Regions from separate parts of the Homo sapiens genome. Here region 1 is linked to region 2. Evidence: fine-mapped expression QTL. A gene starts in region 2. The other region holds a variant in brackets. All regions are shown on one strand. Distances are from middle to middle. Region 1 has its middle 31 kb from the start of SLC60A1. Region 2 holds the start of SLC60A1 (solute carrier family 60 member 1).

Region 1 (5,367 bases), 31 kb after region 2:
TTGCAAACCAGGTAGGTACTGCAGGGGCTGAGGAAGGGGAGTGGAGGGAGGTGGAAGGAGCAAGTCATCTGGGCAGCTGTTTACAATCTCTGGGATAATCCCTACCACATTTCTGCAACCGATATCTCTCTCCTTTACCAGGCTGTGAATTCCTTGAGGATAGAACACTGTTTATTTATTTCTGAATCTCTAGTGTTTCACAGAGTGGTCTAAGCCAAGGAGACTTTTTTTTTTTTTTTTGAGACAAGGTCTTGCCCTGTCGCCCAGGCTCCAGTGCAGTGGTGCAATTAGAGCTAACTGCAGCCCAAACTCCTAGGCTCAAGCGCTCTTCCTGCCTCAGCTTCCAGAGTAGCTGGGACTACAGGCATGCACCCCCATGCCTGGCTACTTTTTAAATATTTGTAGAAACAAGGTCTTGCTATATTGCCCAGCCTGGTCTCGAACTCCTTGCCTCAAGTAATCCTCCCGCTTTAGCCTCCTGAAGCACTGGGATTACAGGTGTGAGTACCGGACCTGGACCCAGGGAGTTTTTTTTTCTTTGTTTTTTGAGACACTCTCACTCTGTTGCCCAGGCTAGAGGGCAGTGGCACCATCTCAGCTCACTGCAACCTCCGCTTCCCGGGTTCAAGCAATTCTTGTGCCTCAGCCTCCTGAGTAGCTGGGATTACAGGTGCATGCCACCATGCCCGGCTAATTTTTGTATTTTTAATAGAAACGGGATTTTACCATGTTGGCCAGACTGGTCTTGAACTCCTGACCTCAGGTGATCCACCTGCCTCGGCCTCTCAAAGTGCTGGGATTACAGGCGTGAGCCACCGTGCCTGGCCCCCAAAAGATTTGTCTCTTAACTTTTAAAAAGTTTTAAAATTTAGGTAATGTTTGTTAAGTTCATAGCCTTTTGCCTAACATCGGTATCTGTTAGAGTAAGGGACACCAGAATTCCCAAACTCTAATGGCATTTTGGGAGGACAGGTAGTTCTCCATAGACAGAAAGGGTTTTATTCACTTGTGTGCCCCACGGAACCATTCCTCCTTTTAGTAAGAAGCCTTTGCCTCCTGGTCACAGCCCTCACAGTGAAACAGAGAAGGTGGGTGATGCCTGCTTCTACCCTCAGGGAAAGATGACATAACAACAGCTTACACTGTGTAATGCTTTCTACATGACCAGTAAATTCTGCGTGCTCTTCTTCTTCTTATTCTTCCTCTTCCTCTTCCTCTTCCTCCTCCTCCTCCTCCTTCTCCTCCTTCTTCTTCTTCTTCTTTTTTTTTTTTGAGACGGAGTCTTGCTCTGTTGCCTAAGCTGGGGTGCCGTGGCGCAATCTTGGCTCACCACAACCTCCGCCTCCCAGTTCAAGCGATTCTCCTGCCTCAGCCTCCTGGGTAGCTGGGATTACAGGTGTGCATCACCATGCCTGGCTAATTTTTGTATTTTTAGTAGAGACGGGGTTTCTCTATGTTGGTTGGCCAGGCTGGTCTCGAATTCCTGACCTTGTGATCTGCTCGCCTCGGCCTCCCAAAGTGCTGGGATTACAGGTGTGAGCCACCGTGCCTGGGCTCTGCGTGCTTTTCATGTACTAATTCATTTAATCCACACTCATCCTATGATCACCCCATTTTGTAGGTGGGGAAACTGAGGCAGAGAGAAGCCATGCGATGTGGCTAAGTTCATACAACTAGGATGTGGTGGTGCCAGGACTTAGGCTGAGGCAGCCTGGCACAGCACTGCCTCTATTGCTTATAAATCTCAACCTCGCCCCACCCCCACTCATCTTCTACAGAGAAGCCAGGCAGTAAATTCCATTACCAAGTGGAACACTGGCTGGAGGTGTGGAATCACAGGTGGCTGAAGGTACCCACTCAAGGCATCTGCCCAAGGCAGGAAACAGTACTGAGCCCTAACCTCTGGCCCCATCTCCTGTTCCCTGAGGTGGCCCTCCTACTCTCATCAACTCGAGCTTTAAGAATCTCAGATTGTGGGCTGGGCATGGTGGCTCATGACTGTAATCCCAGCACTTTGGGAGGCCGAGGCAGGTGGATCACTTGAGGCCAGGAGTTCAAGACCAATCTGGTCAACAGGGCGAAACCCCATCTCCACTAAAAATACAAAAATTAACTGGGCATGGTGGCACATGCCTGTAATCCCAGCTACTTGGGAGGCTGAAGCATGAGAATCGCTTGAACCCAGAAGGCAGAGGTTGTAGTGAGCCAAGATCATGCCACTGCACTCCAGCCTAGGCAACAGAGTGAGACTGTCTCAAAAAAAAGAAAAAAAAGTCCCAGATTAGTTCATTCCCACACCCCAGAATCAGTCTCAGGTCCTGAAAAGCCAAGTCTGGCCTCAAAGCCAGTGACAGGCCTGAGAGGATACCCCTGGCATCCTGGAATCCAAGGAGAAGGGTGTTTGCAAGCCCAGGATCATGCTTTGCCACATTCCTCTGGCTTCTCTGAGGAAGGTATCTCATCTGCCAGTTACACCTTGCTACTCCGCACAGCAAAAAAGAAAGATCCAAGGAATAGGGTCAGGCCAGGTGCAGATCTGGCTGCTGGCTCCTCAGGAACCTGGCAAGACATACCAGAGGCAGTGATGCCCCTGGAATTCCCAAGTGGTTTCCCAGTCTGGGGGACAAAGC[A/G]CTTACTACCTCAAGAGGCAGCGGATCCACTTTGAGTGACGCCTGACCCAGTGCCTTTTATCATAAATTCTCTTTCCATGTTTACTTCCCCAGCTACGTTTAAAGCTTCCGTGGAGAAAAAACTCTGGGCTGAGGTCATTTTAAAAGTCTTGCAAAATCTTTTAAGTAGGATGTTCTTAATACATTCTTGCTGATTGAGATCTTATCAAGAGTGAAGAATGCAAGAAATAAAAGCATATGATCTTCCACTTTACTTCCAGGAGGGAGGAAGCTGGAATTCCTGCTTGTGGAGAAGTGGGTGGGAGTGTGCAGAGTGAGGATGTGAAGCTCACTCACCTAGCACTCTGGGTCAGGCCCCTCCTGAATATTCATTCTCTTTTTGTCTTTTTTTTTTTTTTTTTTTTTTTGAGACAGGGTCTCACTCTGTCACCCAGGCTGGAGTGCAGTGGCACGATCTCAGCTCACTGCATCCTCCACCTCCTGGGTTCAAACAATTCTCCTGTCTCAGCCTCCCAAGTAGCTGGGATTACAGGGGTCCACCACCACGCCCGGCTAATTTTTGTATTTTTAATAGAGATGGGGCTTCACCATGTTGGCCAGGCTGGTCTCGAACTCCTGGCCTCAAGTGATTCACCCGCCTCGGCCTCCAAAAGGGCTGGGATTACAGGCATGAGACACTGCGCCCGGCCTGAATATTCATTCTTAAATCCTCACAACCTTGTGAAATAGGTGTTATCACTATCTCCGTTTTACAGAGAGGGAAACTGAGGCACAGAGCAGTTAAGGAACATTCCCAAGGTGACACAGCTTGCAAGCCGTAGAGCTGGGATTTGAATCCAAGTCTGTGATTTTGGAGCCTGTGTGTTATTTCCCTGGTTGTTCAAGATTCCTTCTTCCCAGGAACCTAGGACTTAGCCAATCTCTCCTCCAGGGAAAACATGAGGACATTAAAACATTTTATTGTTCTTGAAAAAAAAAAAAACCTTAGGAAATTTTAATAGAATGACTAATGGACAACTGTCTTTCCCCCAAGTAGCTGAGACCTTAAGAAGCTGAGAGGAAGAAAAGATTATCCTAGCCGCCTCTGAGATGCTGAGCTCCTGGGAGTGGGGTCTAAGTCAGGGTCAAGTTTGTATCCTGGGTACTGAAAACAGAGCCTGGCACAGAGTCTGGAACCATCTGATGGATAATGAGTAAATTAGGGAGGGAGGAGCTCTGGAGGAGACAGGAAGATGAGGAACTGGGCTAGAAGTTTCTAGCCCAGAAAGGGGCAAGCAGGAGTGCTGACCACATGCAGGAGGGCAGCGGGGATCCTCCCTGCCACGCCCTGTCCATGCTTCAGCTCTCCATGTTTGCGTCACATCACCAGGAAGGGCCCAGGGATGCAGGAGCAAGGGTTGATGCTTGGCATTGAGAACACATCTCAGGGACTGGAGGCTTGGGTTGATTCAAGGGAGAGGCTGCAAAATCTCCTTCCTTAGACAAGAGGCTGGGTCAAATTATTGATCTCTGGGTTTCAGTATTACTCAGGGCCGCCCACTGAGTAATACCTAGTGCCCCCAAGGGGCACTGAGAGAAGTAAAAAGAAGCAGGAAGAAGGAAGAGGAGAAAACAAGGGAGGAAGCGGGAGTGGCCACGTGGCACCTGCAATCTCATCAGAGCTGCCCTTGGCCCCACCCGTCCTGTCTAGGAGAATTGGCACACACTCCCTGGAGTCTGGGCACTGACCATCAGCAATGATGCCAGCCACCGGGCCTCCACAGCTAGGGCGGGAGCAGGGCCCTGGTGCCCAATGATGCTTTTAGTTGGCAGATGGTGGGAGGTTCTGAGGGTCCGGAAGAGGGGCTGAGTCATCACTCAGGGGGCACTTGGTGGGGTGGGGGATAGTGACTTTTGCCCAACCCCCAGGTGTCAACTGGCTGCCTGTCAGACAATGCTTTTAGGTGACCAGAAGGCAAGGATTTCCCAGTCCCTGGAAACCAGATGCCCATCCTCCATGCAAACAAGTGAGGTGGAGTGTCCGTGCCAGTGCCCACACCTGCCCGGAGGCAGCTGCTCAGGTAGGCTGACCTGGGTTGTAATTGACAGTCCACCTTACTCCCTGTGTGGCCATGCAGGTCACCTAACCCTAGAGCCTCTGTGGCCCTCCCTGGGATTAGGATGACAGTCCCTCTCGCAGCAACACAGGAGAGCAGGTGCTTCCCTTCTCCCTTCCCACCACACCTGCTGCTGCTCTACCACCACCTGGGGGATCCTTCCTCTCCCTGCCCCATCACCCTCCTTATAGGGGCTGACATCTCCTATTTGACCCTCTGAGCCTTTAAAAACAGAGGCCAGTGGCTTCCCATCTCAGAATAAAATCCAGAACCCGTACCACAGCCCGCAAGACCCCGCACGAGTGAGCGGTTCTCAACCCTGGATACATGTTAGGGTCATCTGAATCAATCTGAGCTGGGGCCGGATGGCAGTGGATCTTAAGCACTTCCCAGGTGGATCTAATGGGCAGAGCCACTGCCCCACATGATACATCCCTCCTGCCATGCTGCCTGGCTCACTGTGCCCTGGCCTCACTGCCTCTCACTCATTCTCAAGTACGTTCACCTCAGGGCCTTTGTTGGAATACTCTGTCCCTGGCTGTCCACCTGGCCCCCTTACACAACATAGCTCACTTTTTTTTTTTTTTTTTTTTTTTTTGGTACAGGGTCTCACTCCATTGCCCAGGCTGGATGGTAGTGGC
Region 2 (5,367 bases):
CCCAAAGCACATCCCTATGGAGGCATCCACAAGCCCCATTCTGCCTGTGCCCTCAGTCTGGGCCCAGCAGTAGGCAGGACCTGAGTAGGAACCCACGAGAAAGACACTGCCCCCAACTATCCTCTCCCATGTGTCATCCTAAACTTTCCCCCACTCCCCCGCAACAGCTGGCTCTCACAGATTTGTTAAAGCAATCCCCCACTCACAAGTATAAACCAAGTGAGAGCGTTAGCTGGTAATCACTTAAGCTGCAAAGCACTTGCTTGCAGGGGTATTGCATTTTAACTGAGACATGGTCCCACAGAATCCAGCTTTAAAGCTTTGTTGCAGGGCTGGTGGAGCTTCTGGCTGGGGGGATGGGAGACTGTGATGAGAGCTGCCCAGAGTCAGCAAGGTGGTGGGAGACTGTCGCCTACACTCAAGGCCACCCCTGGACATCCCTCTGTTTCCACTGTATATCTGCTTTGCTCTTAACCAAAGGAAAGAGTTCTTCATGGCATTTTGTCTTGGGGGTGGGAGGACTGAGGTTCAGAATTTAAACCTCAACCACTGATAGGATCTACCCCACCCCAAAAAGATCCCAGCAGGAAGCCCCAGAGGGCCACCATTACATTCCCAGAAGTTGTCAGAGCTCAGGAATACCCAGCCCATGAGCATCCTTAGGGCTACTCATCCCAAACCTGTGCCTGATCTGCAGAGTTTACACTGATGACTCACAAAGCAAGAGGGATTGCCTAAGTATCTGTCTTAGAGACAACACCTGGGTTCAAATTCTGTCTAGGCCTCTTCTTAACAACCATGTGATGTGGGCCAAGTTTCTTAACCTCTCTGTGCCTCCACTTCCTTATGCATAAAATGGAGATAACAGTACTACTTCGCAAGGTGGTTGTGAAGATTAAATGGGCTGATACATGTGAAGTACTATGAATAGTGCCTGGCACACAGTAAGTGCAGAATAAAGTTAGTTATCATTGTTACCATGATTTTTTTTCTCTTCTGTGAGCCAGTTCCTGCTGCAGGGTTCTCTCTGCTGCCTGTTCAGAGCCCCCTGTTGGGTAAGCAGTGCTGAGGAAGATACAAAACTACCCAGGAAGAGATGGCCCAGCTGGGTGGGTGTGCATCTCTGCTGGCTTCACAAACCCTGCCCTGCCAACCTGTCATTTCAAATTATCCTCCTTCCCCTCCGTGTTCTTTGCACTACATATTTTCTTTAAAAGTTCCAGGTAAAGGAGCTTTTGTAAGTCAAAGTACTTAAAACCAAAAAACCTGTGCTAGCCACAGATACTTTATCTTAGTTTCTAATTAAACCTCTAGGCAGAATGAATCTTGAGCTTGTCCTTAAGATTTTCTGAATCTTCTGTATATTCCAATCCTGTACCACACCCACAAAACACTGGTGTACACAAGGAGACTTGCTTTTTAAGAAGAGAATAATTTGGTTTACAAGAAGATTTGGGGAAAATGGGGATAATCGCTTCCAAAATTGGTCATGTTTTTAAGGCTTAAAGTGGGGTCCATCTGTACTGACACCTGTGCTCCTTCCACCAGCTCTGGAAGCAAGGTGGATGGAAACACCTGCCCTCACGAACACCTGTAGGCGTTAAGCCAAAGGGCATGACCACAGCCCAGAACGGCCCCTCCAGAGGTTTCTCTGGGATAGCCCAACTGCGGTTTTTTCTCCAGGCCGGCTGCTTGCTCGACTGAGTCCATGGGATCTAGGAAACCACTCAGCCAGGAGCTGGGACTGGGGAAATCAAGCAGCAGCCTCTGGCTTGCAAGTCATCTATTCCCTATTCTATTATGGGTCTCTGTTTTCCATGCTGCACTGGGAGAGTGAATCTGGCTGTCTTTCCACAAGGGAGCCCGGAGGTGGCCCTGTCCAATTTAAGCCGAGAGAATAAGGCTCTGCAATAGTGTCAAAGGGGGATTTCTGGGGGTGGTGCCAGGGAGAGTCCAGAGCCCTGTCGTGGGGCAGAGGCCCAGCAGGAGTAGGATGAGGTGGGTGGGGAGTGGAGGGGAACCTTGGCACCAGGGCTGGAGAGTCACCTTACCAAGCTATGGGTAAAGTGCCCTGCCCCTCCCAACCTGGCCTTAACGGTGAGGTCCTGTGTGTCTCGGGGGCCCATGCAGGAACCATGTTCTGGCTGCCTCAGGAGGAGGGCTACACAGAACCCACTAAACCCCGTGGCTACCCGGGGGAAGGGACAGCCTGTGTTAGCTGATGTGGAGCTGCCTACAGTGGAGCCTGGCCCTGGGAATCAGTCAAGCCGCAGGCCACCTCCAGCACCCTGCACCGCCACAGAGCTGGCCCTCCCACGGTCCTTCCACCTCACTGCCAATCCCGCCCCCGGCAGCCGGGGCTACTGACAAACCCCAGAGGAGCTGTGTAAGAGGGGCACCCTCCCCACCTCTGCAAACTCTATCACTCCTCTCCCCACGGGGCGGTGGGTGGGGGAAGCAGGTGGGAACTGGTTTTATCCTCTCACAGGGATGAGTGATGACAAATAAATAAGCCAGAAGTCACCTTCAGTCTCTGGAGAGAGTTTTCCAGGGAGAGCTGCGGGGGAGGGAGGGAGGGAGGGAGGCAGCTCTTCGGCCAAGATGGAGCTGGGAGGGGTGGTCGCGGCCGGGAGGCGGGGGCGACGGGCAGCCCCACGGGGCCGGGGGAGAGGCCGGGTCGCGGGGCGGGAGGGAAGGGTCGGCCCGGCGAGGGTGGGTGCCGGGGGCCGCGGGGCGGGGGCGCACGGGCGCGGCACTCACGTCCTTTTGAAGACGCCCCCGAGGGCGCTGCCCAGCAGGAGGCAGAGCTGCTGCGAGAAGAAGACCCAGGAGATCTGGGGCAGCGAGCTGTGCGTCTGACAGCGCAGGTCCAGCAGCGTGGGCCCCAGGAAGGCGATGCACAGGCCGAAGCTGAAGAAGACGCTCCAGTAGGTGAGCGTGGGCTGCAGGTTGCGGCGGAGCAGCCCCGACACGCGGCCGTCGCAGCCCATGGCGCAGGCTGACGGGCTCGCGGATCTGGTCCCGGCGAGCCCGGTGCCCGAGTGCCGCCCGCGGGAGGGCCGGCCGGGCTGGGGAGGCCCGCGGCGGGGAGGGAGGGGCGGGGAGGGGCCGCCCCAGCGAGGGGCCCCGCCCTTGGGCCCGGGCGGCGGCGGGGGCGCCTCTGCGGCGGGTGGGCAGTGCGTCCGCTCCCGCGCCTTCCCCGTGCGGTGCCAGGCGCCGGCCTCCCCCTCCTACCCGAGCGCACATGCTCGCCCTCCCCCGGCTGCGGAGACCAACCGGGAGCCGCGCTGCCCCCCGCCCGCTCTCCCTCGACCAGTCCCCCCAGCCTCCGGATGCAGCCCCCAGGGACCGAGCGCCCATTTTAGAGCCCGGCAGATGGAGAGCCCGAGACATCCTGTATCTCCGGATAAGGCTAGGGGCCCTCTCCCCGCACCCGGGCTGTGGCAGTGGAGGAAACCCGGACCCCTTTAAACCTAGGCGCTTCACAGATGGACTTCGAGGGTCTAACGGCACCCCCCTTTCCCCCAGAACAGAAGGCAAAATCTTGTTGTACATATGTTTCTCCTTGGGAGAGTATTCGTGCATGGCTTTCATTAGAACCCCAAGAGGTTAATCACATTGCCCTTTAGAAGGAGAACCCTAGAAACTCAACATCTTCCTCACACTAAGCTCCCTGGAAGGGCCTGAGATGAGGCCCTCCTCCCCACCTGGCCAGGTGCGGGAAGGAGGAGGATGACGCTGGTCTATGCTGACTCTCTCTCTCTCCTTCTAACTAGTTGGAGGAGGGCAGAGAGGGAAGGGCCGCGTCCTGGAGGAACCCCGGGAGGAATTCTGAAATAATCTCCTAGAAAAAAAAATTTAAAAAGAGTTCTGGGGAAAATTCTTTCTTCCATGGATAAATCCCTGGCAGTGAGTAGGGGTTGATTATTCTCTAGACTGGGTGTCCTTCGAGGAGCCTGCAGCTGACCTAGGCTGTCCCTTCATTAGGTGGCCTCGGGCTGGCTGGTGGGTTCTGTGTGTTCCCGCTCCTAAGGGAGCCAGGATCTGGCCCCTGGAGGCAGAACAGTAAGGCCCTGCGGTGTCCCCTCTGCCCAGGTCTTCTGGTAATGACAGGAGCCATGACATCATTTCCACTGGCCCACCAGGGGGACCAGGGCTGAAAAGACTGAGGAGGTATGTGGGCGGGTGTCCCCAAGACAACTTGGCATGAGGTGGGGCAACCAATTTCTCTTGCAGGTACTGGTCCCATCTCATAGCCGCACCCCTGCATCTGCCCTATCCCTTCTTGGACAGTGAGCCCCAGAGAAGGGGGAGCCCCAGGGTCCCTCTGGCTCATCACTCTGTGGGTAATGACAAGTACTTATTCGATAGTGATGATGGGGGGCCTGCACAGTAATTGTAATAAACTGAAAAGCTACCCTCTGGGGGAAAAAAAAAGAAAAAACACCAAACAAATCATAACCACAAGTTTTTGACTGAGTCTTCTCTGCCACTATCACAGAACTCCAGGAACCATAGAAGCTCAGAATTGGAAGGAATAGCCTCCAATTGAGTCCCCTATCCCCTCCCCATAACTGCCTTTGAATGCTTGCCAGTCCTGTTCTTGACTGACACCTCTAGTGCTGGGGACCTTGCATATTCCTAGGGGCTCTGCTTGCAGTGTGGATGAGCTCTGGTTGTAGAAATGGTCTTAGGCAAAATTGAAATGCTTCGCCCTGTAACTGCTCCCCACGGCCCCACACAGAACAAATCTAATTGCTCTGTCATGTAAGTCCTTCACACCCAAAATGACCTTGCCCTAATGATTTTGCTTCTCTAGCCCAAACACCTGAAATCCTTCCATAATTTCCCTAAATGGCGTTCCCCAACTACAGCACCTTGCTGGCTCAGCTCCTCTAGCCACAGTAACAAATGACCCTGCCACAATGAGGTAGCCCCCAGTGCCTGGGATGCTGGAAGCATTCTGAAGCTTGATCTAGGTGGTAGTTACACAGGTGTAAATATATGTAAAAACTTATTGGTCTGTAGATTTAAGATTTGTGCATTTTTGTGTGTAAGTTATACTTGATTAAAATGGTAAAAAGTAAAAATAAAAAGTAAGTAAAAATAAAGGGAGGCATTCCACCGTGAATACAGTACTCAGCCTCTTCATAGTCAAAGACCTATTGGGTTCTGGTACTGTACAAGGTCCTCTGGTTGAGATAAGCAGATATGGAAACAAGTTACAGTTGTCTCTCCATATCCCATATCCCGTGGGGGGATTGGTTCCAGGAGTGCCTGCAGATACCAATATCTGATAAGAACAGATACTACACTTGGTCTTGCCAAAAGGCTGAGAAACGATAGATACCAATATCTGAAGGTGCT

What was found. PIP is the estimated chance that this variant, and not a neighbour inherited with it, causes the effect. A credible set is the group of variants that fine-mapping cannot tell apart.
Region 1: its variant is the best candidate, but not a certain one, in a credible set for the expression of SLC60A1 in sun-exposed skin (GTEx, PIP 0.52).

Annotation. Positions count from the first base shown.
Region 1 is chr1:205,535,823-205,541,189 of GRCh38, reverse strand. No RefSeq gene overlaps it. Among named protein-coding and RNA genes, the nearest start is that of SLC60A1, 31 kb to the left of the region's middle. RefSeq lists an enhancer at 4,252-4,753. The variant A/G (reference allele first, on the strand shown) is at 2,631.
Region 2 is chr1:205,566,693-205,572,059 of GRCh38, reverse strand. SLC60A1 (solute carrier family 60 member 1) reads right to left here and starts at 3,046. Exons shown (of 10, transcript NM_181644.5): 1 at 2,761-3,046. The coding sequence starts at 2,990. SLC60A1-AS1 (SLC60A1 antisense RNA 1) reads left to right here and starts at 2,755. Exons shown (of 4, transcript NR_152721.1): 1 at 2,755-2,931. It also overlaps the pseudogene RNU2-19P. RefSeq lists enhancers at 1,667-2,215, 2,216-2,765.